Linked DNA regions of Homo sapiens. The protein of the gene in region 1 interacts with the protein of each later gene in a pairwise test. Each region holds a gene or a part of one and is shown on either strand. Other genes may lie near its edges. The genes, in order: ANKRD10, ATG9A, FAM222B and PATZ1.

What was found.
Region 2: the proteins of ANKRD10 (region 1) and ATG9A interact in binary tests that used the Homo sapiens proteins (3 or more experiments, as listed by UniProt).
Region 3: the proteins of ANKRD10 (region 1) and FAM222B interact in binary tests that used the Homo sapiens proteins (3 or more experiments, as listed by UniProt).
Region 4: the proteins of ANKRD10 (region 1) and PATZ1 interact in binary tests that used the Homo sapiens proteins (3 or more experiments, as listed by UniProt).

The regions. Positions count from the first base shown.
Region 1 is NC_000013.11:110,904,978-110,912,445, forward strand, and holds part of ANKRD10 (ankyrin repeat domain-containing protein 10), read right to left. Parts: intron 5,794-7,468; coding exon 5,641-5,793; intron 1,148-5,640; coding exon 1,056-1,147; intron 1-1,055.
Region 2 is NC_000002.12:219,219,637-219,227,104, reverse strand, and holds part of ATG9A (autophagy-related protein 9A), read left to right. Parts: intron 1-171; coding exon 172-236; intron 237-1,532; coding exon 1,533-1,694; intron 1,695-1,892; coding exon 1,893-2,034; intron 2,035-2,250; coding exon 2,251-2,999; intron 3,000-3,082; coding exon 3,083-3,236; intron 3,237-3,340; coding exon 3,341-3,520; intron 3,521-4,211; coding exon 4,212-4,460; intron 4,461-4,654; coding exon 4,655-4,833; intron 4,834-4,937; coding exon 4,938-5,055; intron 5,056-5,802; coding exon 5,803-6,025; intron 6,026-6,212; coding exon 6,213-6,358; intron 6,359-6,652; coding exon 6,653-6,658; 3' UTR 6,659-7,468. UniProt on the Homo sapiens protein: Phospholipid scramblase involved in autophagy by mediating autophagosomal membrane expansion. Cycles between the preautophagosomal structure/phagophore assembly site (PAS) and the cytoplasmic vesicle pool and supplies membrane for the growing autophagosome.
Region 3 is NC_000017.11:28,755,339-28,762,806, reverse strand, and holds the end of FAM222B (protein FAM222B), read left to right. Parts: intron 1-650; exon of another isoform or gene 651-733; coding exon of another isoform or gene 734-821; intron 822-2,930; coding exon 2,931-4,537; 3' UTR 4,538-6,827; downstream 6,828-7,468.
Region 4 is NC_000022.11:31,329,053-31,336,520, reverse strand, and holds part of PATZ1 (POZ-, AT hook-, and zinc finger-containing protein 1 isoform long C), read left to right. Parts: intron 1-657; coding exon 658-829; intron 830-1,104; exon of another isoform or gene 1,105-1,172; intron 1,173-7,468. UniProt on the Homo sapiens protein: Transcriptional regulator that plays a role in many biological processes such as embryogenesis, senescence, T-cell development or neurogenesis. Interacts with the TP53 protein to control genes that are important in proliferation and in the DNA-damage response.

The DNA.
Region 1 (7,468 bases):
CAATATAATACAGAGTCAAAGCAATGAAATGGAAACCAAAGGGTTAAACTAGTTTTGTGGGTTTTATTTCCTCCGAAGTCTAAATGTTCACATTTCTGATTAGAATAATGTGGTTTATAATTAATTTTCATGAATTATTCATAACACTTAAGGTAAAACAAAAAAGCTGATATTGGTTATTTTGGTTATTATAGCTCTATAGCTTACACTCAACATTTAAGGGTGAAAACCGCATCCATTTTGTTAATGCTGTGAACTGCAGAAGAAAAATTTTTATAATATAAATTTTTAAGAAAAAGTTAATACAAATAAATGTAACAACTAAAATAAATGTATAATGCCATGGCTAATGATTTGCATATAAGATCTCATTTCTAAAAGACTACACGTAAACATTAAGATTGTCCTATCAAAGCATAAATAAGCTAACTGATGTAAGCTGGGCTAAAACGAAAGATATTTAAAAATAATGCCACCAGTACCAGAAGCTTACAGCAAGCTTGAGGTCTTTAATGTAAATAGTCATATTTTACAAGGAACTATCAACCATTAAGTTACAATGGGCTTTAAAACATAACTTTCTCACATCTGCTAAGACGTGGAAATCAAAACCTAGAAAAGTGAATTTTCTTCAGAAACCTTCTGAGCCAGAGAGGTCTGAAAAGATATTTTAATCCAATCCAAGCTTCTTGTTTTGAAATCAAAATTAGGCAAAGAAAAGTTTAAAGACCACAGTGACACAACTAGTTAGTGGCAAAGTAATGGTGGCAAAGTAATGATGCCAAGTTCCAAATCTAATTAGTTAACTGTTCTTTCAGTTCAAATACACTCTCTCGACAAGAATATTGAGGCTGCTGTGAAATTAAACCCCCTCCTCTAGAGATCAATTTAATCCACACAATTTTCCTCACTAACACCAACTGTTCTAAAAGGCAAAATTACATTACTAATTTTGAAAACAAAGTTTTAGGACTTTTGCCTGCTTATGTACTGCCTTTAAACAAAACATCCTCAACTACATCTTTAGCTGGAAAGAATAAACGAAAGACACTTACTCGACGTGAGCCCCATTCGCCACAAGGGCACTGATGCATTCTAGGCTCCCAGAGCGAGCTGCCTTGTGAATGGGAGTTTCACCCTCACAATCCTGAAACAACAAAAAGCAAAATATACACATACTTAGAACAAAACTTCTGACATTTTGGAAGTAATGTCATTAACACAGATCAGAGACCTTCTCATCCTTTTTTGAAGTAAAACATGTTGAGCAAGATCTGAAGCAGAACACAAAGAAATCTATACGTGAATGGAGGATGAGAACGAACCAGGAGGGGCCAAGATATTTGGTCGTTGACCAAATATCTTGGGGCCTCTCCAGTAGTGACAGCGTGATTGCTCTCAACAGTGATTTATAAATCACTTTACACTGGATCTTAGCACGTGTGTTTTATATAAACCCAGAATAAGTAACCAAACAAACAAGCCAACCAACCAACCACACACACACATTAAAACGGTCATCAAGGCCAAGAAATAGCACATAATAGCTGACATATGGTCTCAGCTACCCACTTTCCTCTGTGCCTACCCCAATGCTAACCCGAGTCAACATCATCAATGCCGATCTTGAATCTTCTGCTTTGAACTTGAAGTGGGACCACAACTTAGACAAGATGGCTTGAGGTTCAACAGTTGATCTATTTTTCAGTATTTACTAGAGGGAATATTTACTAAATATTCCCAATCTATTTTCAGTATTTATTAGAGGAAAGGGAGAAGAACACAAAGGTAAAGCAAACCAAGCTTCATAAGAATGAAATTCCTGGTTCAGAAAGTGCAGAGGGGGTGGGGTGGCGGCGGTGGGGAGGTGAAGCACACACAGAGGCAGAGAAAAGTGAGCAGACCCAGGAAAGCCACTGTGAACATCAGCAGTCAACCCAGGTCTACACTGCATGAATGAAACAACCTGAAAGACCATCTTCATAGGCTATCAGCTAAGCAAGAGAGGGGAAAGGCAATCAGACACAGCAATCAAGAGAAGAAAGTGCTTTCCGGTGGAAAATGAAGACTGGGAAATCCTGGGGGCTCCACAGCAACACTTCTTTTTTTTTTTTTTTTTTTTGAGACGGAGTCTCGCTCTGTCGCCCAGGCTGGAGTGCAGTGGCGGGATCTCGGCTCACTGCAAGCTCCGCCTCCCGGGTTCACGCCATTCTCCTGCCTCAGCCTCCCAAGTAGCTGGGACTACAGGCGCCCGCCACTACGCCCGGCTAATTTTTTGTATTTTTAGTAGAGACGGGGTTTCACCGTTTTAGCCAGGATGGTCTCGATCAGCAACACTTCTTGAATACTCACACTGCAACCTCACTGGAAGCTGAACTGCGCAGACTACCACACAATTAAGAGACCAAGATAAAAAGGAGTGCAGCAACTGTGGGTCACTTAGAAAACAGTTCATTCCTAAACTCACTAAATAGCTAAGCTCCTTCACCAACTCATACTCACAGGAATAAACATGAGGTGAGGGCCACCCAAAGTTAAAAAAAACAGTGGTAGATTAATTTACAGAAAAATAAGAGTATGAAAGGCTCGAGTGCTTGGTAGAGGGAAAAGTGTGCACATTTATTTAAACAAAGGTCTAAAGAGACTATAAAGCAATGTAAAGTTCTAAACAGAAAAATCCATTTTTGAAGACAGAAACACAGAAAACCATGCGGCTATAAACTATCCAGTCAACTCGGATTTTTTAAAAAGCGAAAACCTAGCCCTATCCTCCCCAAAAGAGAGGTGAGGAGGGGAGAGAAGTAGTACAAAATAAAGACAAATAAAAATTACATAAAAACATTCCCAGGAAAACTGGAGCTGAGATTTAGATAAAGTTTTGCCAAAAAAGAAAAAGGCTAAAAAGGAAAAAAGGTCTTTAAAGCTATCCTTGGAACAAGACAAAAAAGTAAGGGTCTGTCACGGTGGGATATTAACAGATGACAATGAAAAAGCAAAACTACCAAGCTCTGCAGGGACAATCTTTAGGGGCAGAGCAAACACTAGAGAAAGGCCCGGACATCCTGAGAGAAGGTAGCCAAGAGAAAAGATACGTAAGACTAAAGAGCCAGGTGAAGGTGCCCGGGCCTCCAGCTCAGCCCAGTCACATCGCAGCCACAGCAAATTGAGTGATCTACAGGGAACTGGGAGCAGTGCCAGAATGCTCAAGACAGGCTGGGCACCCTGGGTTTTCATAAAGAAAAATTTCATTTCCAATCTAGATATGAAAAATTAAAGACAACATCAAATGCCAAAATTCTAGAAGAGGCATATGAAAGAGAAGGTTTGCTAATTACGCACCAAGGCTAGTCAATATAGATTCACTAAAAACAAATCACAGGAAAGCTGGCTTCATTTCCTCTTGGGGAAATCGAGAACACAGGCCTCTAGGCAGCATACGAGCTTTGGTAATCTCACCTCAGAGACTGCCAAAAAAGTCTGTGGTATTAACTTTGAGGAAAATGAACTTAGAACTGTTAGTAGCTAACATGCCAAAAGATTAACAGACTAGAAATTGGCTTAAAACACTGCATCAACAGGTTCAAAAAATTAAATGGACACAACAAAGGAGAAAAACCTGGATTGGATTTGGCATCCTGAGTTTATATGAGAAATGAGAGAAACTGTCTACCTGGAGATGAGTCAGCAGGTAGGCGGGGTGGGGAGCTAACAAAAGGGCTATTGTGTCCTCTAGAGTCACTGGGTGCCCATAACAAGAGGTGTTGAAATTCACCCACTACATAATAGAGTGAGATGATGCCTCAGATTCGGATGTAAACTCCACATGCCAGCAGACCACAACTACCTAAGATACACTAAGGAGAAATTCCAGGATGCTTTACAATGCCAAATGATATGCACTAGGCACATGTGAGGACTTGGAAATGTCTACCCGGATACTTCAAATACAGGGAGGGCTGAAAAGAAAAAGATTTTAGGATCCTGCCTGGGAAGAAGCAGAGTGCGGTAGAAGTTTCCAGGAGGTGTTATCTAGAGGCATCTGAGAGGAAGGTGGGAGACCCAGCAGCACACTTTCTGCCTCACTCCCTTTATCTACTGAAAATACTGAACTGCCATAAGACACTTTGAAAAGGGGGCTTCTTGATTTAAAAAGGTCTGGAAAGCAGTGTTAGACAATTTCTCTAGTCCTCTCTAAATAAGATGCTATGTAACAATTTGATGAAAATTAACCTACAAAAATGATATACTTAAATTCCATACTATTAATTACTGCCATTCATGGAATTATTAACTGTATTTTACTGATAAAGAGATTGAGCCACAAAGTTAATGACTTGCCCAAGGAATCAAGCCCACACTGCCCTTTCTACCAGGGGACAGGGGTAGGGAAGAAGGAAAAACACAAGGCGCTGCCCAGCACATAAGGGTATTGAGTAGGTAATTCATAACTCTCGAATTTATGAAGACAAGCAACAGAGCAGCAGAGAAATATACATTATGTAAAGGCACACGTGTGGAGATGGAAGGAGAGAAGTGGCAGCACAACCTTAAAACTTGTCCCATATCCCACATTTCAGTTTAGTAACAAACAGGCCTCAACTCTTGGCCACCTTCCATTTTCTTTTCTACTTCACATCTTTTAAGGGGACAAACTGCCTTATAACTTACCCCACTTTCCCATTGATCCTTGTTTTAAATCATGGCTAAAAACACCTTCTTTCTCAATTACTTACTGCTCAGGTGGGTAGCTGGGTTTTTAGAAGAGGGACTAGCAACAACCTTATGCCTGGTTATCATGAAGGACTGAATCTTGGGAAAGAAAAGTAGAAAGACGACTTTGCATCCAAGACCTTGATGACTATAAAGCATTTAAAGATAGGAGTAAAAAAGGCATAAAAACCAGCTCCCAGAGCCCATGCCCAGGTCTTAAGAGATGAAAATTATCAATTAGTCTAAGGACTAATCCATCTGCAGCAAAGGACGCTGAGTCTAGGGACTGCTCCCAGTCAGACAACCTAATGGTTATTAGATGCTGCTTGTCTCACACAACTAAGTACCTAACAATCTGAATGCGTGTGTGTTTGGTTTAGGTGAAATGATACTGAAAACACACCATGAAGAAAAATCTGGCACGATTATGTTCCTGTCAGTATGTTTAAATACCAAGTCCTCAAGTCACTTACTCTTCCCACTTAGTAAATGATACTTAGCACTTATCTGCATCAAGGCATCAACTTGTATCTGAAGCTCACTTTGGAGCTGACTTAATAGCCATGCTTTTCCCAGGATGAAAATGTTTTCATAATTATCTGTGGAAATGAGGCTAAGGCAGCTATGAGTAGAAAGCCAGGAAACCTGGGCTCAAGGCCAGGCTCCTTTAATTACCAGCTATAACCTTGGGCACATCACCCTGGATCAGTTTATCACACAACAGGTGAAAGCACTCTATGAACAGAAAGCATTCCTATGGAAAGGGCCTACTATCCTCCACAAACAACTGAAGAAACATAAATTCCAGTCTGCCCTCAGGTAAAGATATCAAACTCTAATTAAGGCCTCGATTTAAAGCAATACCGTGTATAATTATAACTGCAAAAAGAAAAAGCAAAAGCAAACCAAGTCCATCACCAGCACTCTTACCGGTTTGTTAATGTTGGCTCCTGCTTGAATCAGCCAGACCAGGCACTGAGGATGTCCCCCAAAGGCTGCAATGTGGGCTGGCGTCTGCGCGTACCGTGTGGTGGAGACGTTGAGTGTGGCTCCCGCTCTCACCAACTGCACTAAGCACTCCAACTTCGAAAACAAGAGGGGTAATGAAAACACGCAGACATGTCAGTACACTATTCAATATTACATGAATAATCGAAATTCTATAATGGTGACAAATGGCATTGTTACCAGTTTTTTAACAGATTAAGTCACTCTTTCCCAATGCCATGCAAATTTTAAAGGACATTTAAGATAACATATTCCCTTGTCCTTATGAAAAAGACGGTAGATAGAAATAGAAAAATGCAAAAAGACGACTAACACTATACAGATTTAAATATTTGTTTCCCTACAATTGAATAAGCCAAAATCAGAAAATATTGGACTGCGCTGTTCCAAGACTTCTATCAAAACTGTTTGTTGCACAGACTATTCTAAACAAAAACGTTAAAGGGATTGGTGGGTTAAAAAACTTTGTGTAGGCCGGGCGCAGTGGCTCATGCCTGTAATCCTAGCACTTTGGGAGGCCAAGGCGGGTGGATCACTTGAGGTCAGGAATTCGAAACCAGCCTGGCCAACATGGTGAAACCCCATCTCTACTAAAAATACAAAAAAATTAGCCGGGCGTGGTGGCGGGCACCTGTAATCCCAGCTACTTGGGAGGCTGAGGCAGGAGAATTGCTTGAACCCAGAAGGCGGAGGTTGCAGAGGGCTGAGATCACGCCACTGCACTCCAACCTGGGCAACAGAGCAAGTCTCCATCTCAAACACCAACACCACCACCACCACTTTGTGTAATGCCAGGCGCAGTGCCTCATGCCTGTAATTCCAGCACTTTGGGAGGCCAAGGCGGGTGGATCACCTGAGGTCAGGGGTTCAAGACCAGCCTGGCCAACACGGCGAAACCCCATACTGGGGTTTCAAAAATACAAAATTACAAAAATTACCTGGGTGTGGTAGTGCATACCTAGAATCCCAGCTACTCAGAAGGCTGAGACAGGAGAATCACTTGAACCTAGGAGGTGGAGGTTGCAGTGAGCAGAGATCACGCCGCTGCACTCCAGCGTGGGCAACAGAGCAAGACCCTGTCTCAAAAAAACAAAAAACAACAACAAAAAACCCCACAAACTTTGTGTAGCCATAGTAAACTCGTCATAGTCAAAGACTATTTTCTATAGTGTGCACAACTGTGCACTTTTACACAAGCCAGCACTGAATACTCATTGAATAATCAATAGAGGCCCCATTCTCCACATTTTTTTACTCTTTTCAAAACCCTATGGGGGAAAAAAGCCTACAGCATAACTGAGCAATGCACCTAGTGGGTGACTAACATGGCAAGTTAAGACTTTGTGGCCAAGCACCAATACCATGATAGCCTCTGGCTAAAATAATTTAGCGCATTCAACAAATTTACCAAGTGCCTACCATGTGCCAAGCAACTGTTCAACCCACGTTCTCTGATCCTGGACTGCTCATTTTCCCTCACTCCAATCACAATGCAGTTAGGGAACAAGCTATGCCTGACTGCAAGCAATTCTCTTCAAGAGGAGAGACCTCACCTGAAGACAAAACACCTGACACTACCATCTCAACTCAAGGTTTCTTTTTCCATTTCTCTTAGCACTTTCAGGCTTTCAGTAAACACTCCTGTGAGATGAAGAGTACACAGATTCAAAACACCCTCTTCAACCAACTTGGACCTGGGAGTAAAGGCTGATGTCTATTTATTGCCTTTATTAATTCACTGGGTGAAAAT
Region 2 (7,468 bases), on another chromosome or scaffold:
TATTCCTAATGTACCACCATGGACAGACAAAAGTTTAGACAGGTTAAGTAACTTGGTAAAGTCACACAGCTAGAAAGTCACAGAGCCAGGACTTAAGCTTGAGTGTGTTGACACCAAAGTCTGTGCTCTTACCTGCTTTCTTTACTGACTACTTTTTCTTAACAATTACACGTTTATAATCTGCACCAGAAGAATGGCTTCACATGTATGCTCATCGGGGAGATCTTTGAGCTCATGTAAGTATAAGAAGGGACAGATGATGTGGTGAAAGAATACATCTTAGTCTTTCCTCTCCTTGCACTCACACTTGGCCCAACCTGCCAGTACAACTCAGTCCTAGGCTAAAACTCCGTAAACCTTTGTAGTTCAGGGACTGGGTGTGGCACCAAAACTTACAGCTTCACCTTTCTTTTTTTTTGAGATGGAGTGAGTCTCACTCTGTCGCCCAGGCAGGAGTGCAGTGGTCTTGGCTCGGTGCAACCTCTGCCTCCCAGGTTCAAGTGATTCTCCTGCCTCAGCCTCCTTAGTAGCTGGGACTACAGGCATGTGCCACCATGCCCGGCTAATTTTTTTTGTATTTTTAGTAGAGATGGGATTTCACCAAGTTGGCCAGGCTGGTCTCGAACTCCTGACCTCGGGTTATCTGCCCGCCTCAACCTCCCGAAGTGCCGGGATTATAGGCATGAGCCACCACGCCCGGCCAAGCTTTCTTACAAGAAAAGCTTTCCAAGCCTTATCTCTTCCATGAAAAGAACCCAAGCCTTGGTTGGGCACGGCAGCTCACACCTGTAATCCCAGCACTTTAGGAGGCTCTAAAAATACAAAAATTAGCTGGGTGTGGTGGCACACGCCTGTAATCCCAGCTACTTGGGAGGCTGAGGCACAAGAATCGCTTCAACCTGGGAGGTGGAGGTTGCAGTGAGCCGAGATTGTGCCGCTGCACTCCAGCCTGGCTGACAGAGTGAGACTCTCTCAAAAAAAAAAAGAATGCAGGCCTTGACCTTGATCATCTCAACGCTCCAATGGAACGTACATTGTTCAGTCAGGAGGTCTCAGAGATGCCAGCCACAGAGAAAAGCCTCTGTTCTGCCTTGCCTGTTCCATGGCCTGCTCCTAGGCAGAGAGCCTCCTGGGAGAGAGAAGCCATATAGCATTGCCGAAGGGGAAGGGGTTAGGAAGCCCTCCCTCAATCAGAAAACTCCCCCAAGGGCTTTTAACTACAACCTCAAAAGGAAATCAGAGACTGGAGATCAGAGACCCACAGGATGAAACCTTCGAGAGTCCAGTAGTGGTGGCTGAGGTTACCATGAGGTGAGGAAAGTAGGCTGCAGCTGTGGCAGCTGAGGCTAAGAGCAAAGAGTGGGCCTGAGACAGTCCTGTGGGGCTGAGGAGCAGAGAGGGCCCACTGGGAGTTCTCCAGGCCCTTCCAGTTCCCAGTCTTGTTCTGCCACCTCCAGACTCTCCTCTTCCCACTGGGTTTCACTGGAGCCTCTCTGGCTCTCAGACTGCACCCCTTCTTCCCAACTCCCCAGGCAGTTCCTCTTTGTGGTTGCCTTCACTACCTTCCTGGTCAGCTGCGTGGACTATGACATCCTATTTGCCAACAAGATGGTGAACCACAGTCTTCACCCTACTGAACCCGTCAAGGTCACTCTGCCAGACGCCTTTTTGCCTGCTCAAGTCTGTAGTGCCAGGTAAGGGCTGCAAGTCAAGAGGACACCATAGCCTTGAGTTCTGCTAGCAGGTGGGTAATAGAGTGGAGTCTGAGGCAGCAACTCATACTCCAGAACTGACTCAGGCTTGGTCTAGCAAAAATACTTCAGGATAGCAGCGTCTCTGCCAAGACTCCTTCCTCGAGGGCCACCTCTCCTCCCCTTCTTTTTCCCCACCAGGATTCAGGAAAATGGCTCCCTTATCACCATCCTGGTCATTGCTGGTGTCTTCTGGATCCACCGGCTTATCAAGTTCATCTATAACATTTGCTGCTACTGGGAGATCCACTCCTTCTACCTGCACGCTCTGCGCATCCCTATGGTAAGACTGGGAAGTTGGGCAGTTAGCCCATAGTCTAAGACGTATTGGGAGGTGTGGGTGTATTCCTGGGCATCAGTTATCCTTATCTGTCATTGACAAATCAGGAACTGTCTCTTAAGCTCACAACCCCTGAATCTCACTTCTAATATAGGGCAAAGGGGTCGAGGCAACAACCCCACCTTCCGTACCTTGTCTCTTCCCCACCCCACCCCGCAGTCTGCCCTTCCGTATTGCACGTGGCAAGAAGTGCAGGCCCGGATCGTGCAGACGCAGAAGGAGCACCAGATCTGCATCCACAAACGTGAGCTGACAGAACTGGACATCTACCACCGCATCCTCCGTTTCCAGAACTACATGGTGGCACTGGTTAACAAATCCCTCCTGCCTCTGCGCTTCCGCCTGCCTGGCCTCGGGGAAGCTGTCTTCTTCACCCGTGGTCTCAAGTACAACTTTGAGCTGATCCTCTTCTGGGGACCTGGCTCTCTGTTTCTCAATGAATGGAGCCTCAAGGCCGAGTACAAACGTGGGGGGCAACGGCTAGAGCTGGCCCAGCGCCTCAGCAACCGCATCCTGTGGATTGGCATCGCTAACTTCCTGCTGTGCCCCCTCATCCTCATATGGCAAATCCTCTATGCCTTCTTCAGCTATGCTGAGGTGCTGAAGCGGGAGCCGGGGGCCCTGGGAGCACGCTGCTGGTCACTCTATGGCCGCTGCTACCTCCGCCACTTCAACGAGCTGGAGCACGAGCTGCAGTCCCGCCTCAACCGTGGCTACAAGCCCGCCTCCAAGTACATGAATTGCTTCTTGTCACCTCTTTTGACACTGCTGGCCAAGAATGGAGCCTTCTTCGCTGGCTCCATCCTGGCTGTGCTTATTGCCCTCACCATTTATGACGAAGATGTGTTGGCTGTGGAACATGTGCTGACCACCGTCACACTCCTGGGGGTCACCGTGACCGTGTGCAGGTGGGCCAGGGCCACAGGCGGGAGCAAGCCGGCTAGCATTCCTGGGAAAGGCATACATCTCACCATGATCCTGATCCCACTAGGTCCTTTATCCCGGACCAGCACATGGTGTTCTGCCCTGAGCAGCTGCTCCGCGTGATCCTCGCTCACATCCACTACATGCCTGACCACTGGCAGGGTAATGCCCACCGCTCGCAGACCCGGGACGAGTTTGCCCAGCTCTTCCAGTACAAGGCAGTGAGTGGAGTTGGAGTTAGGGCCTGCTAGAGACTGGCTGGTAGCTCGGTGGTGAGGGCTGGGCTCCCTCCTGCTCGCTTGTGACCTTGGTCCCGCCCTTTTAGGTGTTCATTTTGGAAGAGTTGCTGAGCCCCATTGTCACACCCCTCATCCTCATCTTCTGCCTGCGCCCACGGGCCCTGGAGATTATAGACTTCTTCCGAAACTTCACCGTGGAGGTCGTTGGTGTGGGAGATACCTGCTCCTTTGCTCAGATGGATGTTCGCCAGCATGGTCATCCCCAGGTACTGGGAGAGGAGGGAGCCAGGTGGCCTGGGATGATGCTGGAACATACAGTGTCTTTGGGAAAACCGCAAAAAGACACCTCTCCTGAGTCACACAAAGGCAGTCCTATACCAGGGGCACACTGCTTGGGAGCCTGGGCTGGATTTCAGCCCTAATTCGCACCCTTGGCCAAGCTCCCTTAAGAAAGGCACAACACGGCCAGGCGCGGTGGCTCACGTCTGTAATCCCAGCACTTTGGGAGGCCAAGGCGGGTGGATCACGAGGTCAGGAGATCGAGACCATCCTGGCTAACACGGTGAAACCCCTTCTCTACTAAAAATACAAAAAAATTAGCCAGGCGTGGTAGCGGGCGCCTGTAGTCCCAGCTACTCGGGAGGCTGAGGCAGGAGAATGGCGTGAACCTGGGAGGCGGAGCTTGCAGTGAGCCGAGATCACGCCACTGCAATCCAGCCTGGGCGACAGAGCGAGACTCCATCTCAAAAAAAAAAAAAAAAAAGGCACAACACAAGTAACTGGCTCAGCATGCAGTGCAGCCCCTCCTGGGTCTGGGGGGGCACCAGTGCCCTGGGAAAGATTGACAGTATACTGTGGTCTCCGTTCTCCAAGGGTAAGGCCTCCCCACTAACAGGAAAGGTGCAGGAAGGCTCCTGGAAGAGAACAGCCCTGCTTACTCTGCTCTTCCTTGTGCAGTGGCTATCTGCTGGGCAGACAGAGGCCTCAGTGTACCAGCAAGCTGAGGATGGAAAGACAGAGTTGTCACTCATGCACTTTGCCATCACCAACCCTGGCTGGCAGCCACCACGTGAGAGCACAGCCTTCCTAGGCTTCCTCAAGGAGCAGGTTCAGCGGGATGGAGCAGCTGCTAGCCTCGCCCAAGGGGGTCTGCTCCCTGAAAATGCCCTCTTTACGTCTATCCAGTCCTTACAATCTGAGTCTGAGGTGTGTTCCTGGTGACTGGGAGATGATGGGCAGAGTGGACTTCAGGAGCTGGGAGTTGAGGGACCGGGCATGGGGTGGAAGGCTTCCTGCTGTCTCTTCAGTATGTGCCACTGGGGCCTGAGATACAGAATACTAGGGGACCCCAGAGACCTTTCTCTTGCCTCAAGAATTCTACCTACCCGTTTCGTTCATAGCCCCTGAGCCTTATCGCAAATGTGGTAGCTGGCTCATCCTGCCGGGGCCCTCCACTGCCCAGAGACCTGCAGGGCTCCAGGCACAGGGCTGAAGTCGCCTCTGCCCTGCGCTCCTTCTCCCCGCTGCAACCCGGGCAGGCGCCCACAGGCCGGGCTCACAGCACCATGACAGGCTCTGGGTGAGTAAATCGGGGCCAAGATGGGAGGGCACGGCAGCCCTCAGCAGCTTGTGTGGGTCTCAGAGAAGTTCACAGCTGCTGTCTGTCTCTGTTGGGAGAGACAGGGTGGATGCCAGGACAGCCAGCTCCGGGAGCAGCGTGTGGGAAGGACAGCTGCAGAGCCTGGTGCTGTCAGAATATGCATCCACAGAGATGAGCCTGCATGCCCTCTATATGCACCAGGTGAGTGCACAGCTAAAAAAGAGAGTAGAGGGTTTAGATGCGGAGAAGCAAGACCGGGGTTCCAAACCCTTCTCTGCCATTTACTTGTTCTGCCACCTCCACTCCCATATCTACCTTCTTAATATCCTTTTTAGCTAAGCCTGCTCTCATCCAGGGCCTTCACACACTCGCAGTTTCCCCTGCCTAGAATCCAGTTCCCTGGGATATCCAGATGGCCTCCTCCTTCTTCTTGGGTCTCTGCAGCTGCCGTTTCCCTGAGACTTTCTCTGATCACTCTCAGTAAAAGGCTCCCTTGCCCACCCTCCTGAATCTTCCTGTCTTAGTTTTCTCCATAGCATTTAGCACCATGTGACATATCATGTTTTTTCCTTATTTATTTGCTTATTCCATATCTCCTCTACCAGTATATAAGCCTCACAAGGGCTGGCATTTCTGTCTGTTTTGTTCACTGCTATCTCCCCACACCTAAAAGAGTGCCTGGCACTTAGACCGTCAGTCAGTTTGTTCCTGAATCAAATGAATAGGTAAAATGAGGGCCATTACAACACAGGCTTCTTCCGGGGATCTGCTGTGAATGTAACCTGTAAAGATCAGAGGTATATTACACACTATTAACATAATAGGTGCTCTGAGGCAAGGATTCTCAGGGAAGGGGTAAAGCGGGAACTGACTGATACCAGGTTGGAGGGCAGCTGTTTCAGATGGACATCCGTCTGTCCCCCACTAACGAGCCCCCCATTTCTCCAGCTCCACAAGCAGCAGGCCCAGGCTGAACCTGAGCGGCATGTATGGCACCGCCGGGAGAGTGATGAGAGTGGAGAAAGCGCCCCTGATGAAGGGGGAGAGGGCGCCCGGGCCCCCCAGTCTATCCCTCGCTCTGCTAGCTATCCCTGTGCAGCACCCCGGCCTGGAGCTCCTGAGACCACTGCCCTGCATGGGGGCTTCCAGAGGCGCTACGGTGGCATCACAGGTATCCAGTGGGGGTATAGGAGGAAACAGAGGCTGCAGGGAAGGGTGGTTCTTCCAGGGCCTCTCAAGGGGAGGAAAGAGGTCTGAGAGAACAGGCCCAAAGACTCACCCCCCAAGCAGCCCCCCAGCCCTGTTCCTCATTCTTGTGTTCCTTCTATGAGTATGCTTACTCTTACTTGTCTCTCCAGATCCTGGCACAGTGCCCAGGGTTCCCTCTCATTTCTCTCGGCTGCCTCTTGGAGGGTGGGCAGAAGATGGGCAGTCGGCATCAAGGCACCCTGAGCCCGTGCCCGAAGAGGGCTCGGAGGATGAGCTACCCCCTCAGGTGCACAAGGTAAGGGCCCCGGGGCCTAGGAAAAACTGCCAGAAATAGTAACTTCCAGGGTGAGGTAACAGCTTTTCAGGGGAAGGAAGATATGCCCCACCCCCACACAGAGATACTGTACCCTCCCTTCCAAAACACACTACCCCTTCTTTTCTCAACTGCTCTGCAGGGCTTGGTTTTTCCTTACCTTACCTCCCCAGGAATCAACCTTTCCTGTCCCTTTACCTCTAGGTTTCTATGGGGCTAGCAGGTATCAACCAGAAGCTGAAGACTATCTCCATTACCAACCCTTTCTCCCCACAGGTATAGACAAGGCTGAGCAGGGTTCCTGTGGCCCAGGATGGAGGCCACCGCTGCCCTGCCATCCCGTCTGCCTGCCATGGGACGGCTCCTCTGAGTGTTCCCTGGCCCCACGTGTGTGGTGTTTGTGTGTCTGTGCCTGGCCAAGGGAGGTGCCAACACTGGGCTTGCCACAGCCCCAGGAGAGGAATTTGGGGCCTAGGAACCGAGGGCACACGGGACTCTAGCCTCATCCCCAGGACCCCCTTGGCTCAGAGTGTGGTGCTAGAAACTGGCCCCCAGCCCAGCCCCAGTACTGCCACCTTTACACCTACCCCTGCAAGTCCCCAGAGGGCTGCCCACGATAGAAGCTGCCAAGCAGGGAGAACCTGTGCCAACTGTGGAGTGGGGAGGTTGGGCCTGGACCCTCAACCCCTGCAACCTTCCCTAGCCCCCTCAATAGATGAGCAGGTCAGGCTGTGGCCCTTACCTCACCCGCAGTTCTCGCCCAGTGCTGCAGCCGGCTCACCTCTCTCCGCTTCTTGCACATCACTGGCCTGTGTGTGCTGCTTGCTCCTGTTCTGTTCGCTTGCTCCCGTTCCGTTCGGCTTTTGCTTTGCGTTAGGGTGAAGACCCTAGCGTCCAGCTCCCCTCAACGCTATATTTTGACACTAAAAAAGAAGGTTTCTAAATTGTAGGAGCAGGATGGAAATACTTTGCTGCCCTTGCCATCTTTTAGGATGGGCCCCCAGGAGACTGAGGTCTTCCTGGGCCCTCATTGCTGCTTATCGTACCCCCCATCACCTGCACATGGGACAGACCGGGCTGGAGGGTGACCTT
Region 3 (7,468 bases), on another chromosome or scaffold:
CACCATGCCCGGCTAATTTTTTGTATTTTTTTAGTAGAGACGGGGTTTCTCCATCTTGGCCAGGCTGGTCTTGAACTCCTGACCTCGTGATCCACCCACCTCGGCCTCCCAAAGTGCTGGGATTACAGGCGTGAGCCACCATGCCCAGCTGAGAAAACTTTTTTTTTTTTTTTTTTTTTTGAGATGGAGTCTCGCTCTGTCACCCAGGCTGGAGTGCAGTGGTGCAATCTTTGCTCACTGCAACCTCCACCTGCCGGGTTCAAGCAATTCTCCTGCCTCAGCCTCCCAAGTAGCTGGGACTACAAGTGCGCTCCACCATCCCAGGCTAATTTTTTGTATTTTTAGTAGAGACAGGGTTTCACCATGCTGGGCAGGCTGGTCTTGAACTCCTGACCTCATGATCCACCCGCCTCGGCCTCCCAAAGTGCCAGGATTACAGGCATGAGCCACTGCGCCCAGCAGAAAACTTTTTTTAAGAGTTAGGCTTAAGTCTGGTATGTGAGGTAGATGGTGCTGTATTCCCAGAATGATACCCCTTTTTTGTTCAATATACTGTACTCATCTTTGGGGTTCTTCCTTAACAAAGCTACTGTAGCCTTGTGGCCACCCTCCCTACCCTCATTTCACTTTATTTCTGAATCCTTTGACAGCCCTCTTCACCATTTCAGCATCAGTGGAGGCAGGACAAAGAAAACTAATCAATGTGGATAAGTGTCCCCTTCCATACTCCTGAATGAGGTCAAGCTTCCCCCTTGCCTCTGCTAAAAAAAACCTCAGAGTTGGTACTAACTTGGAACAAAGGGACTCTTCTACTCATCAAGGTACTATACGACTTCTACTTGGATTTCAAGGAGAGAAGCCCACCAGCATGGAGGTGGGCTAGGTTTAAAGCACTGTGCTAGGAGTATTATATGAGATTATGACCAATAAGACACATAGGTACAGTGGTTGACCAAGGCAGCTTCTGTTGGAATTCTGATGTCTTGAGTTTAGGGACTTGCTCTCAATCAGTGATCCCAGACTTTTTTGCCAGTATTTGAAAGCACAGACCTGTTTTGGGAGGTGGGGATGCCTGGCTCTTTTTGCCCAGATCTGCTTGTGAGCATGGGCCCAAATCTCTCTGCCCCTCCTGACTTGAGCTTTCTTTTCCTGCTTCCCAGAGCAGGAGTTGCTAACCAGCATTATCACCAAACAAAGAGAGCTGTACCCATTTTCCTTCTAATATGCTCATTAGCCTACCTTTGTTCTAGGTGATGCCCAGTGATGTGACTTTGAATAGAGTCTCCTTTGGGCCAAGGCCACCTGAGGCCACAAGCTGGGCATTCAGTCAGATTAGTCGTTGGCCTATCCTCCTGCCTTTTGCAAGAGGAGGAAGTAAGGAGAGAGTCGGCTAGCTGAGCCTGGGCTTCCTGCCAAGCCACTTCTGCTTTGGGCAGTCTGTGTACTCATTCAGCAAGCATTTATTAGGCACCTTTTGTGTATACTCAGGGGAGACCCTCCCTCAGAGACGAGAGAGTAGAGCAGAGCCCCCTTGCAGGAGGTTGGCATCCTTAAAGAGCCCTTGTTCTCAGAACCTTTTCCTTTTTGACTGGAAGCCGGACATCCGCTGAGCCCCCTGATGGGAGGCAACAGGAGATGGGAACAAAGAGACTGTTAACATTAATGAGGCACACCGAGTGGGCATTTCCGCAGTCTCCAAAGGCAGGCAGGTTTTTCCTCTTTCTTTTTGGAAAATGACAGCTGACATGGACCAAATACAGACTATTTTTGGCTCTCAGGACTGAAAGGACTGAAAGATGCTCTGAATCCTTTCTTCTCAATTCCCTCCCTGCTGCCCTGTCATTATTATCTTCCTTCTCAAGCAAATAAATAAAGCCTTTGATCCTCATCCAGTCGGGCATAGAGTAAACTGTAAACAAAAGTGAACTTGTGACATGGGGAAGGGGAGAGATGTTGGCAGCTTATTCCTCTGCTCCTGAAAGGAAGCATTCTGTCTACTGTTCAGGGTGCCCACCCAGTGGGCAAAGCCCCCCAGCTGCCAAGATGCAAGGGAAAGCTGATCCCTCATTGGTCCCTGCAGACTGAAGAGTCGTAGCTCTGGGTACCCTCTAGACTGAAGGGCCACCATGGCCCTGACAAGGAGCTTTGCTTAGAACCTACCCCCAAGCCACATGGGCTGGTAGAGTTCCAGACCCTGCATTTCTCTCTTTTTTTTTTTTCTTTTTCTGAGACAGAGTCTTGCTCTGTCGCCCAGGTTGGAGTGCAGTGGTGCGATGTCGGCTCACTGCAACCTCCGCCTCCTGGGTTCAAGCAATTAATCCTCCTGCCTCAGCCTCCCAAGTAGCTGGGATTACAGGTGCTTGCCATCACGCCTGGCTAACTTTTTGTATTTTTAGTAGAGACGGGGTTTCGCCATGTTGCCCAGGCTGGTCTTGAACTCCTGACCTCAGATGATCCACCCACCTTGGCCTCCCAAAATGCTGGGATTTACAAGTGTGAGCCACCGTGCCCAGCGACCCTGAATTTCTGTGTAGGGGGAGAACTCTCGGTTACCTCTCTGAGAATTGGCCAAATTCTGGTTCTGCAAGATATGAGACTTTGAAAGATGCTTTGCTGTTCTGATCTCTACTTACCTCATTTATAAAATGTAAATGATGATAGTGCCTGCTTCTACAGCAATAGTGAGGATTCATTGAGATGGCCTGTCATCTGGCAGAAGGCCTGGCCCACTATAAGCACTTACTGAACATTAGCAGTGCTTGTTAATGTGAAGACTGAAGCTGGGTCTCGAATGAAGGCTACAGATGACAATCTAGTCATTTCCCCACCCCACCCCAGGCCCTCAAAAGGGGAATCTGGAAGGGCTGTTTGCCTTGGCACTGATGAGCTCCCTCTCCCTCTTTGCTCTCCTTCCCATTCTCTCTCTCTAGGGGACACTACACAGAAAATGAGAACTGCTCACTATCCTACCCCAGCCGAATTGGATGCGTATGCTAAGAAGGTCGCAAACAACCCACTGACTATAAAAATCTTCCCCAACAGTGTGAAGGTTCCCCAGCGGAAACACGTTCGTCGTACTGTGAACGGCCTCGACACATCAGCCCAGCGCTACAGCCCCTACCCGACACAGGCTGCCACCAAGGCAGGCCTGCTTGCCATTGTCAAAGTGCCAGCCAAAAGCATACTCAAGGACTTTGACGGCACCCGAGCCCGGTTGCTCCCTGAGGCCATCATGAACCCCCCAGTGGCACCCTATGCTACTGTGGCACCCAGCACTTTAGCCCACCCCCAGGCCCAGGCTCTGGCCCGCCAGCAGGCCCTGCAGCATGCACAGACCCTGGCCCATGCCCCTCCCCAGACGCTGCAGCACCCTCAGGGTATCCCGCCACCCCAGGCACTGTCCCACCCTCAGAGCCTCCAGCAGCCTCAGGGCCTGGGCCACCCTCAGCCCATGGCCCAAACCCAGGGCTTGGTCCACCCTCAGGCCCTGGCTCACCAGGGTCTCCAGCACCCCCACAATCCCTTGCTGCATGGAGGCCGGAAGATGCCAGACTCAGATGCCCCCCCGAATGTGACCGTGTCTACCTCAACTATCCCCCTTTCAATGGCGGCCACTCTGCAGCACAGCCAGCCTCCGGACCTGAGTAGCATCGTGCACCAGATCAACCAGTTTTGCCAGACGAGGGCAGGCATCAGCACTACCTCAGTGTGTGAGGGCCAGATCGCCAACCCCAGCCCCATTAGTCGCAGTCTGCTCATCAATGCAAGCACCCGGGTGTCGACCCACAGCGTCCCCACACCAATGCCTTCATGTGTGGTCAATCCCATGGAGCACACCCACGCGGCCACCGCCGCGTTGCCTGCTGCAGGTCCTGTCAACCTGCCCACAGGCATCTCTCGCGTCCCCACTGGCTACCCTAGCGACCTCAAGCCAGTCACCTGGAACCAGCACCAGCTGGCCCACCTACAGCAGATGTGCAGCGAGGCTAGTGGGACGCCAGCCCCTGGCCTGACAGGCAAGCATGCGGCAGGACGCGAGTTGGCAGGGCCTGGCTTTGTGGGCAAGGCCCCTGCCTACCCGCAGGAACTCTGCCTGGCGCAGTCCTTCCATCTGAAGCCACCCCTGGAAAAGCCGACCCCATCCCCACCAGTCAACGGCATGGCAGCCCCATTGGCCTACCCCAATGGTCACTACTTCCAACCCCTGTGGAACAACATTCTGCCCACTCCCAATAGCGACAGCTCGGGGTCTCAGGACCTTGCCATGCCGTTCCACGGTGGGCAGCCCACAGGTGCACCCCTCGACTGTGCGGCAGCTCCCGGGGCCCACTACCGAGCAGGGACCGGGGGCGGTCCAGTGGCAAGCCAGAACAGCTTGATGCAAACAGTGGATTACCTAAGTGGGGATTTCCAACAGGCCTGCTTCCGAGAACAGAGCCTGGCCATGCTGAGCAAGGCCCACCGAGCCCCTGGCAACCGAGCCCCCGATCCCACAGAGAGTCGAAGTCTTCATATTCAGCACCCAGGGTATAGATAGGTAGCCCTGCTGCCCTCCACGTGCAACACATCATACATCACCCTCCTAGGTTTAGTCTTTTAAGTAACTGGATAGTTTCAAAGTTTCACTGCTCCAGTGTGATCATTCTTAGATGTCTAAGAAAGGGAATTTGGTGGGATCTAAGTGGGGACAGAAGGGGTCCTCTCGTCCTCCCCTCCAGCAACTTTTGGTTTTATGTTAGAACCTAACCCTAAGCCCAGGCTTTTCTCTCCACTGACTGCCTGTCAGCTAGTCTCTCCACCTTGGCCATTTCCAGCCAGCTCCCACCCATCTTTTCTTGAATCTCTTCCTGTTTCCCTTAGGACGACTGAGGTGTGGGCTGACGGAATGCCCTAGTTGAGGTAGTATAGGTGCTCAGGCCCCTAATCCAGACCTCTACCTGTTGCTACCCCCCTTCCCCTCCCTCCAGGACTAAGAAGCAAGATTTCCCAGGTGCTCTGAAAGCTAATTACTTACTCATCGAAGGATCTCAAATCAAAGCTGACCCAGTCTTCATATCCTTCAAGTTCCTTTCCATTCCTCAAGGCTTTGTTTTGTGTCTATATTGATCCCACAGCCACTGCACTTGCCCTTGCCACACTTGATCTCAAGGGCATCTTGGAAGTATTTGACCATTTCTTGAGATATGGGGGGAAAAAGTCTTTGTATTGGCATCTTGGTTCCAGACTCCCCTTTCCAAACCTAGAAAAATACAGTGACCTTTGAGCATACCCAAGATCCCTTTCTCACTGTTGCCTGTCCCCTAACTCACCTCCCCACAGCCCCTATCCTTTCCCCCTCAACAAAAACAAAATCTACCTTACTTGAGGAATTAGGTAGGTAAGGAATGATCACATTGGAGTTTGGGATTAAAAACACCAAAAAAAAAAAAATGCATTTGGTTCTCTCTACACTGGCTAAGAATATTGCTCTACACTGTAAGTTTTAAACGTTACGTTTCTGTATGAATGTAGTGTGGGTTTGAGTAGCATTGTGTGTGAGTGGCCCCACAGGTACATTCACCCTCTAGTGCAGCCCCTCAGTTTAATGAAGGAAAAAAAAACAAACACAAAGCCTTAAGCTCTTTGAGTACTTCCTTTACCAAATGAGCATGGTTCTAACACCTGGAGCTGGGCCTACATTGGAAACAAGCCCCTCCTGCCCTCTGTCCATTCTTAGAGCATACCTTCATCCACTCCATGCTCAGCACGTCTCATCCCAAGCGACAATTAGTTGGCTAGAAACACTTTTCTGTAATTTTAAACTTAGACTGTTTTGTTACAAATTTTTGCACCATTCTGTTAAAGATGCAGAATTGGGCTTTTTTATTTTTTACAGATGAAATAAGCCCTTACCTTTCCTCTTGTCTCTGGGGAATGTCAGCTGATGGTTCTTATTTAAGGTTTTGCATTTTGTTCACTATCCACTACTGTTCGTTAGCCAGAAATTCTCTAGTGATCTGAAGCAATGTGACTGAAGACCAGTTTTAAGTTATGTGTTGGCAAGTTGCCTTATATTTAAAAGGAAAAAGAAAAAAAAAAAAGCCTGATTGTGTTATGCCAAATGATAGCAACATGAAGTCCTAATTTATTGTTCCCAATTGTTTTCCTGCCGTCTGTGAACACTGGTACCTCCCTGTCCTGATCCCCCAGGAGCACCTGTAGCTTCTGACTCAATGCCTTCTCCGAAGGTGTTGGCCGCCATCTCACCCAGGGCCCTCTTCCAGTTCCTGCTTTTCTGAGTCAGATTTAAAGAGCACCACTGTCTTCCCCCTACCCCTTGCTTGATCTCCAAAGCAGATATTCTTGCTGTATTTTTTTTTCCTCCCCAATACCTCTCCCTGAAAGGTGAGCTGCTATTTTAGGAAACTGGACCAGACACCAACTTGGGGGCTTTAAGTCAAACAACCTCAAACCCATCTCTTCCTGTGTAGGGGTGCAAGCCTCTGAAGCTCTCACTCCCACCCTTAGTCTGCATGGAAAATGTACTGTGATCCCCCTGCCCCCAACTGCCCTCGCCTTTGGTGTGAGATGTTCCTTCTTTCGGAGTTCAGCCTGAGTCCCTCTCCCCTCTGCCAGCCAACCCCCAGCCAGCAATAAGGGTCCAAGCCAGGGCCTCCTCTCCACACTCCCTGTCTCCATCCTACACTACCCTAGGGAATACCTGGATTCCCCATTCTATCCACATACTGTAGCATTCATTCTCCATCTCTCTCACCTCACCTGTGGTGGTTTATGGGTGTGATGGGGTTTTTAAGATTATTATAAACCAGTAAAAATAAGAAAACCTCGCTTTCTGACCTTGTTCTATTCGTTTAGTGCTGTGAATGTTTGAGGTAACTTTTTCTTAACAGTTTCTAACATACCTCACTTCATAGGAGTAATTCCTAATTTTTAAAAGGGGTACCCCTGTAATATGCATCCCACCCAGAAGCCGTCTCCAAATCCATTATTTAAGGCCAGGTGCTATGGTGATTGTAGACAGTTCTTCAATGAAACCCTGGACACAGGGTACCCGGCTGACAGGCCCTCTCCCTGGGCAGGGCTGCTGTGGGCTTACTGTGAAGTTTGAGGATAAGTGTGGTTTGCTGTCCCTCACTGGAGGCCCAAAAGGTCCTGCCACTTGCATTCCAAGGGCCATAAGTCATTGAGAAATGGCGATCTGGTTGTTTTGTTTTGTTTGAGGCGAAGTCTTGCTCTGTCGCCCAGGCTGGAGTCCAGTGGCACGATCTCGGCTCACTGCAACCTCCACTTCCCAGGTTCAAAGGATTCTCCTGTCTCAGCCTCCTGAGTAGCTGGGATTACAGGTGCCTGCCACCACGCTCAGCTAATTTTTTGTATTATTAGTAGAGATGGGGTTTCACCATGTTGGCCAGGCTGGTCTCGAACTCCCGACCTCAAGTGATACACCTGCCTCGGCCTCCCAAAGTGC
Region 4 (7,468 bases), on another chromosome or scaffold:
CAGACACTTTTGAAGCCTCTGGCCCTTGCTGTCTGCTAATTCTCATGTCGTCAGAATTGCCACTATCATTTAATGGGCTGCTTTTTCAATTCAAACTCGTGAAAATATTACGAATAATTATCTCTGCACTTTGTCCTGCCTTTCCTTTCCATTTCCCTGGCCAAGACTAATGTCACTTTTGAATAAAATGAACAAATATAATTCTTTGTATAAAACTAGGGGAAACCCAGGGATACAGAACAGGAAGGCTGGTTTATATGCCAATAACTCATCTGTAAATTCATGTAAATGTAATTCTGTGCATTATAGCTAATGCACCTAAAGTCAATTCTTAATGTCTAAGGATGAGCAAATGTGTAACTCTTCATTGTGTAGAGGGGTATAGAGCTTAGCTTGCCATGTCCTGGGTACATTTCCAGTAGTCATTTAGTTAGTACCAGTGATTCCCACTCAAGTGTCCCGTAAGGAGGTACCATGGGAAATAAGAGCAGCCTCTTGGCATTCTGGGTAGGGAGCCTGAGCCAAACTCTAAAGCTGTCTTTATAAAGGGAGGTCATGTGATGGCCAGAAATTGCCTTTGCTTCATGGTGCACTTGGTGGGGAGTCAGGTGTGGGGTGCTGGGTTTCACATCATCCCATTTTCTTTTCTGCCTTCAGACCTGCAATGCTTCTTTTGCCACCCGAGACCGTCTGCGCTCCCACCTGGCCTGTCATGAAGACAAGGTGCCCTGCCAGGTGTGTGGGAAGTACTTGCGGGCAGCATACATGGCAGACCACCTGAAGAAGCACAGCGAGGGGCCCAGCAACTTCTGCAGTATCTGTAACCGAGGTAATCTGCCCACTGTTTCCTCACTTCCAGAGGATGGGCCTGAGCGTGTATGGGAGGCCTAGGGGTGTCTCAATCACCCTGCCTCAGACTCCACTCTTTGCACAGCCACCCCCTACTTCCCACTGAATGATAAACACCTTCATCACCCAACTAGCTATTTGCTACCTCTTCCTTCCCAAGAAGCTTGGGGTGCTTAGAATGGGAAGTCCCAGGAGACCAGCAGGTCAAAACAGAAGGAGAGAGGTTCTTCCCAAGCTTGGGCCCATAACTCTCACCTGCTACTCAGATGGCAGGATGGATGCATTTTGCAGACACCACTGAACCACTGAGGTTGGTGGGGGAGTTAGTAGGTCCCAAAGTGAGAGAAAAAGAGGTTGGTCCGGCTTGAGAGCTTTTGCTGGTTGATTCACTGGCATATGAAATTCAGCAGCCAGGGAAGGAGGTTGAGTCTGGAGATAAACAAGGAGCAGACACTTTGTAGCACAAGTAGTCAGAAGAGAGCCCAAACTCAGGTAGATTGTGGCCTTGAGAGAGGAAAGTGGAAGGTGCTCTGAGCAGGGCAGCATGCTTGAGGACAAGGTGGGCCTAAGTAGTGTCTAACTCTGTGGCAGTGGTGTTGTGTTGGGTGAAGTCAAGCCTGTCCCCAAGGTTCTGCCGGGTCTAGTTGGCTGTTGGAAGTGCTAGATGTTTGTGTTTTGCAAGCACAGCATCAGTGGAGGCTTGCACTGTGTCTGTGCTAAAGGAGGTTGGAGCAGCTATCTGTGAACGTGAGGATGCTTCTGCATGGTGTGCTTTGCTTTGGCCAGTGGGGAGCACTGGGATGTCCTTATCTCCTGGGGCATTCTTGCTTGTCCCAATGCTTCCGAAAGCCTGCTTAGTGGGTGCAGCACTGAACCAGGAGTCAAGAGACCCAGGGTTTAGTCCCAGCCTCTCACTAGGTGGCCTCGAGTTCTCCCATTCCCTCTCTAAGCTTGAGTTTCTTCATCTCTCAAATGGGGTTAAGAATAGCCCCCTTTCCCACCTCACAGGGCTGTTATGAGGATCCCAGGAGACAAGGTAGGTGAAAGGAGCCGCACACTTGGGAGACTCTATCCTTGCACTTTGTAACAATGTTGGGAAAGACATGCTTGTTGACACTCTGGGTTGGACCAGGCACAACACTCCTGCAGGCCTTGGCGGAATCGTTGGGTGCCTGTGCTGTGTTCATGTGCCGAGGTCCACGGTGGAAGGAGATTGCTGAGTAGCTGGGTGTTCTTGGTGTCCTGGAACTGGGTCCCTCCTTGCAGCTTCATACCTGGGGTTTGTACCACCAGGACACCTGCTGTGAAAGCAGGGAAGTAGTAGTGAAGGTCTCTTAAGCTGTCTGTTCTGTTTTCTGACATGTCATTAGAGCCCATTGCTGACAGGAGCTTCCTCCAGGTTGCAAGCGGTGGGCTTGCGCATGCAGGGAGAGTTATCAGGCTGTGGCTGACTGTCTTGACTGGGGCTTCCCCAGCCCTAGAAATAATGTCGTTTCTTGTCTTGCTTCATCCTAACCTGGCTTCCTGACAGCTCCCCCGGATAACTCAAAACCTGCTGTAACAAGCTGTTAGCAGGCATTTTGTCAAGTTTTCAATATGGAAGTTCCCAGTCTGAGAACTGGGGTCAGAGACCAGAGGTTGAAAACTGCTGAGTGGAGAAGGGTGCTCATGATAAAACTCAGAAAGCCCAGACCAGATGGTGGAGTAGGGCAGAAACTGGACAGGAGACCCAGGGCTACAGCCCTTGAAGCCCAGCTCAGGAGGAGAGAAAAACTGAGAGCAGCAGGGACAGTGGGAAAGTTGGCCCAGTAAGGAAGCAGCTGATGTGGCAAAGCCAACAACTATTGTACATCAGGATTTATTTTCCAAGGGCTAGTAAAGAGAACTTGGGCAACAGCCATAAGCTACATGACCGGAATGGAGAATCCAGAAGAGTAAACCAGAGTCTACTTTTTCTCAGAAAAGCCAAGACTGGGTCTGGATCACAGGCCAAACATCTCTGGGTTCCAGAGCCAGAGCGGGAAGTCCCTTTCCTGCAAGAAGACTAAAGAAGGTGCTGGTCCAACCCATGCTGGGTACTCAGAAAGAAGAGAAAACAATTGCAGTTTTTATCAGAAGAGAAGGAGCAGGATTCTACTCCTGGACTCATTCCTTGGGCAGAAATAGGAAGAGACAAAAAAAAAAAAAAAAAAAAAGGAAGAGGATAAAGTTCTTTCTGAGCACCAAAAACATTGAGACATTGGAATCAAAATGCAGAGAGCTCTGTGTCCTCCTTTGCCCTGCTGCCACCAAGCCTGTACCTACAGGAGGGGTTGCACGAATAAACGAATGTTCTTATCTCTGCATGTGTTCAAACAAAGGCTGAATGTCAGAACAGTTAAGATTGAATCAGGTGAACTTCCAGGTGCCCTCAGATCCTTCAATCCCAACAATTCTTAAATAGTTGACTTAAGTATCTACCTATAGATCTGTCTTTTTCAATTTTTGCCACAAAAATGACTCCTGGCTGTGAAGAATGGCAAAGAGGAAAGGCAGCCTGACTCCTGCAGCCTCACACGTGAGTCAGATGCAAGTTGAAGAGACAGATGACTCTGGCTTTGTCATACAGACATATCAGGATGTGTATGATACTATTTGTACAGGAAGATCATTTGCAGTGGAGGGAGTATTATGGCTAGAAAAGCTTGTTCCCACATTTTTGAGTTGAGGAAATCAGTTGAGTTGAACAGTGGAAAAGGGAGAAGGCCCTGGCTGATCACCATGATTTTCTTCCTTTAAAGTTTCTGTAGCAGGATCTTTGTATATATGCCTATGTGCTGGTATGGTGAAGAGGAACAGATTATCAGGAATCCGCCTTTGACAGAGACATTTGAATGCAAACATCATTGCTTGAAAGGTAGAGGAAGCCTTCTCCCCAGTCAGAGGTAAGCACACAAGTGGATGGATGCAGGGAACCTGCTGTTCCCCTGGACTCACATCAAGCTATGTAGGCCCACTCCAACACAGTGCAGTTGGGAATGGCCCCTTCAGGGTTTGGACAAGGAGAAAGCAGTCCCCAACCCCTGCATTGATGTGGAACCTGCCAAAGGATGATTTGCTTCTGGAGTGCCAAGTGCAGGCACACCAGGCAAGAAAATGCAACTGAGGAGCAGTGGCCTTTTGCTAATAAGACCATCGTCTCTGGAGTGAAAGGGCCGGTGGCTTGTTGGTTGTAGTGGCAGTCATATGTGTGCTCAGCATCTCCATTGCGTGGATGGCTGGATCAAGCTGCCTCTTTGGATCTTGGTTAATCAGTGGTGAATGGGTGGGTAAGTTTAGAATTCCGGCTAAATATGTCTGGCTTCAAAGACGTATTCTGCTCAGAAGCTCAGCTTCTGTTTCATCCTAACACTTGGCTGCTGAGTTGCTCTGTGTTTAAATTCTAGGCTTTAAGTGGCAGCTGTGGATCCACTCCTACCACCCCGCCATGTGGTTTTGCTATAGATAGTACAGTCTGCAGCTGGGGTAAAGTCAAGAGGACTCAGCCACGTGTTTCTAAGACTGTTTTTCAGGAAAACTCAGCAAGACAGTTTCGCTGTTGTTGCCCAGACTGGAGTGCAATGGCGCGATCTCAGCTCATCACAACCTCCACCTCCTTGGTTCAAGCGATTCTCCTTCCTCAGCCTCCCTAGTTAGCTGGGATTACAGGCATGCACCACCACGCCCGGCTAATTTTGTATTTTTAGTAGAGACAGGGTTTCTCCATGTTGGTCAGGCTGGTCCGGAACTCCCAACCTCAGGTGATCTGCCTGCCTCGGCCTCCCAAAGTGCATGAGCCACTGCGCCCAGCCAAACTCAGCAAGTTTTTATTGAGCATCTGCTGTGTTCTCTTGGTATAGCTCTCCCAGTAAGGAGTAAACATAATAATTCCTGGTGCTCTCCCGCTCCTTTCTGTCCCCTTTTGATTGCAGTGGACCTGCTCTGGTTCATCACAGGGAGAGAGCTTCATGCTATTTTAGAGACCCCACAAGGGATTAAAAAACTAAGGAAAGGCCGGGCACGGTGGCTCACGCCTGTAATCCCAGCACTTTGGGAGGCCGAGGCGGGTGGATCGCGAAGTCAGGAGATCCGAGACCATCCTGGCTAACATGGTGAAACCCCGTCTCTACTAAAAATACAAAAAAAATTAGCCAGGTATGGTGGCGGGCGCCTGTAGTCCCAGCTACCAGGGAGGCTGAGGCAGGAGAATGGCATGAACCCTGGAGGCGGAGCTTGCAGTGAGCCGAGATGGTGCCACTGCACTCCAGCCTGAGCGAGAGTGAGACTCTGTCTCAAAAAAAAAAAAAAAGGAAAAAATTACCTTCTAAAGTGGTATCATCATATTATCAGAAAGTTCTAATATCTTGTACTGATTGGTGGGAGCCAATGTCTCCTGGTTCTGCTTTGTTTTAGGGGACTCTACAGTACCACCCCAAGGGGCAGGGCTAACAGCCTCTTTCCCATTAGCCTTGTCTCCTCACTCCTGACTACAGCCTCCCTCTTAGGGATGTCTACATGGGACCCTCTTACACCAATCTATACCCATGATCAGCCTCAGGCAGACCACTGCGGTCATAGCACAGGACAACTTGCTCTACCAGGCAGGGCAGGACACCAGCACCTGGTCTAGACAGATCTTTGAAGTAGCTGTATTGGGAAAGGAAGGAAAATTGGCCCAATCCCACATTTCCCTTCAGAACCACTAACTGCTGCTGTCAGAGGAGAACTTGTTAAATAAAGTTCCCACAGGCCAGCCCTGTTTTTCCAGCAGCTTCCATTCTAACATACCATTATGGTCGAAAAATACATGAGTGTAAATGGTAATAATGAAACCTATTGTAAAAGTCCACTGGATATTTCTAGGGCTCAGGGCTAAGACACAGGAACCAATTAACCCATTTATGCTGGAGGTTACAAACTTTTTTGTGAAAAATCAGACTTTAATGATGATCTTGAGCAGTAGGATACAAATAATTCCTAAAAGGTTAGCGTCCCAATAATGGAACATGAGGCATAAGTGGGTTAAAGCATCTGCCCAGTAGCTAAGGGCCAAGTTCTGGTGGCACATGATCCTGGGGTTGGAGTCCAGGCTCTGCCACTCAGTAGCTGTACGTGTGACCAGGTTACTTAACCTCACCAAGCCTCTTTTTTTTTTGAGACGGAGTCTCGCTCTGTTGCCCAGGCTGGAGCGCAGTGGCATGATCTCAGCTTACAGGTGCCTGCTACCACGCCCAGCTAATTTTTTATATTTTTAGTAGAGACGGGGTTTCACTGTGTTAGCCAGGATGGTCTCGATCTCCTGACCTCGTGATCTGCCCACCTCAGCCTCCCTAACCTCACAAAGCCTCTTATTTCTTTATCTGTAAAATGGGTATAATAGTAATCTGTAGCACAAAGGGTGTTGGGCAAATTCTATAGAATAGTGCATGCGGTGTGCTGGGCCCTGGTGTGCCATCAGCACTTCCTAAAGGTGAACCTTTATTACAGTTCCAGCAGCATTCAAAATACCATGCCAATTCAGACTTTTTTAAAACAAATCTCATGCAGACATTACACAGTACTCTTCAGCCTCTGACCCTTTACCCTTTAGCAGTGGATCTCACTGTTATCCTGTGACTGTGTAATTTTGAAAGTGAATGGAAACACCTGATGATGAGTCAACCAGATCTGAAGTGGATTAAAGGGACACTGTCAGGGTGCTGGCACCCTAAGTGGGCCTTATACTAAAAAGCTTCAGTTCCTGCTAAAAGCACCTTCTGATCCTTGACTACAGTGGGGTTTGATGGCATACCTCCTTCCTGTGAAACCCAAGTCAAAATCCTTTTATCGGCCTGCCTGATTCTGTATCCTTGGACGCATGGCTGCTGTGGAAGTTGGCCCAAGATGTGTTCTTCCCAGCCTGAGATATCTCGTGGATCAGACTGACCGAAGCATCTGGGAGGTGGGCTGGAACAGTCCCAAGAAGGCCGGATTGTCCTCCCCCAAAATAAAGACAGAGATCATCCGTGTTTCTTCTCCTGTACGCGAACCTGGTGGATGCTCCAAAATCGAACCAAAACACTACCATGAATAAGAGATGACTGCACTCCTCTGACACAACTTCCTATTTTTGTCTTTGTTCTTCAAAAGGTCTAAACAGTTACTAAATCCTGTTATGCTGAAGGTGGGGAAGTTAGAAAAATAGAACATCTCCTGACAGGTAGAAGACGGGATCCTTGGAGGCGTTCCTTTGGGATTTCATTTTACCTCCATCTCGTTTGTTGTCCAGTTTCCTTTTACGAGGATTAAGCAGGCATCCTGCTGGCTAGAATCCTGTGGCTTCCCTGGAGCCTCAAATTCTTGTCTAACCACATTTCTAGTCATGGTTCCTGCAGGAGACATCCACTCAAACCACCTGTTACTGAGGCACCAAGCAACCCTAGAGGCAGTTGGCCTCTGGCCCTAGCAGGAGCAGGATCTCAGGCCATCCCACCAGGCAGCCAGCCTCAGCCCCTCACCGCAGCCTTGCAGAGTGGGCTCTGCAGAGAAGCCGATTTGTGGACAGTGCCACCCTCCATCCTGAGTCACATGGCTCATGTGGTTGCAGCCATTTTTGAGCCAG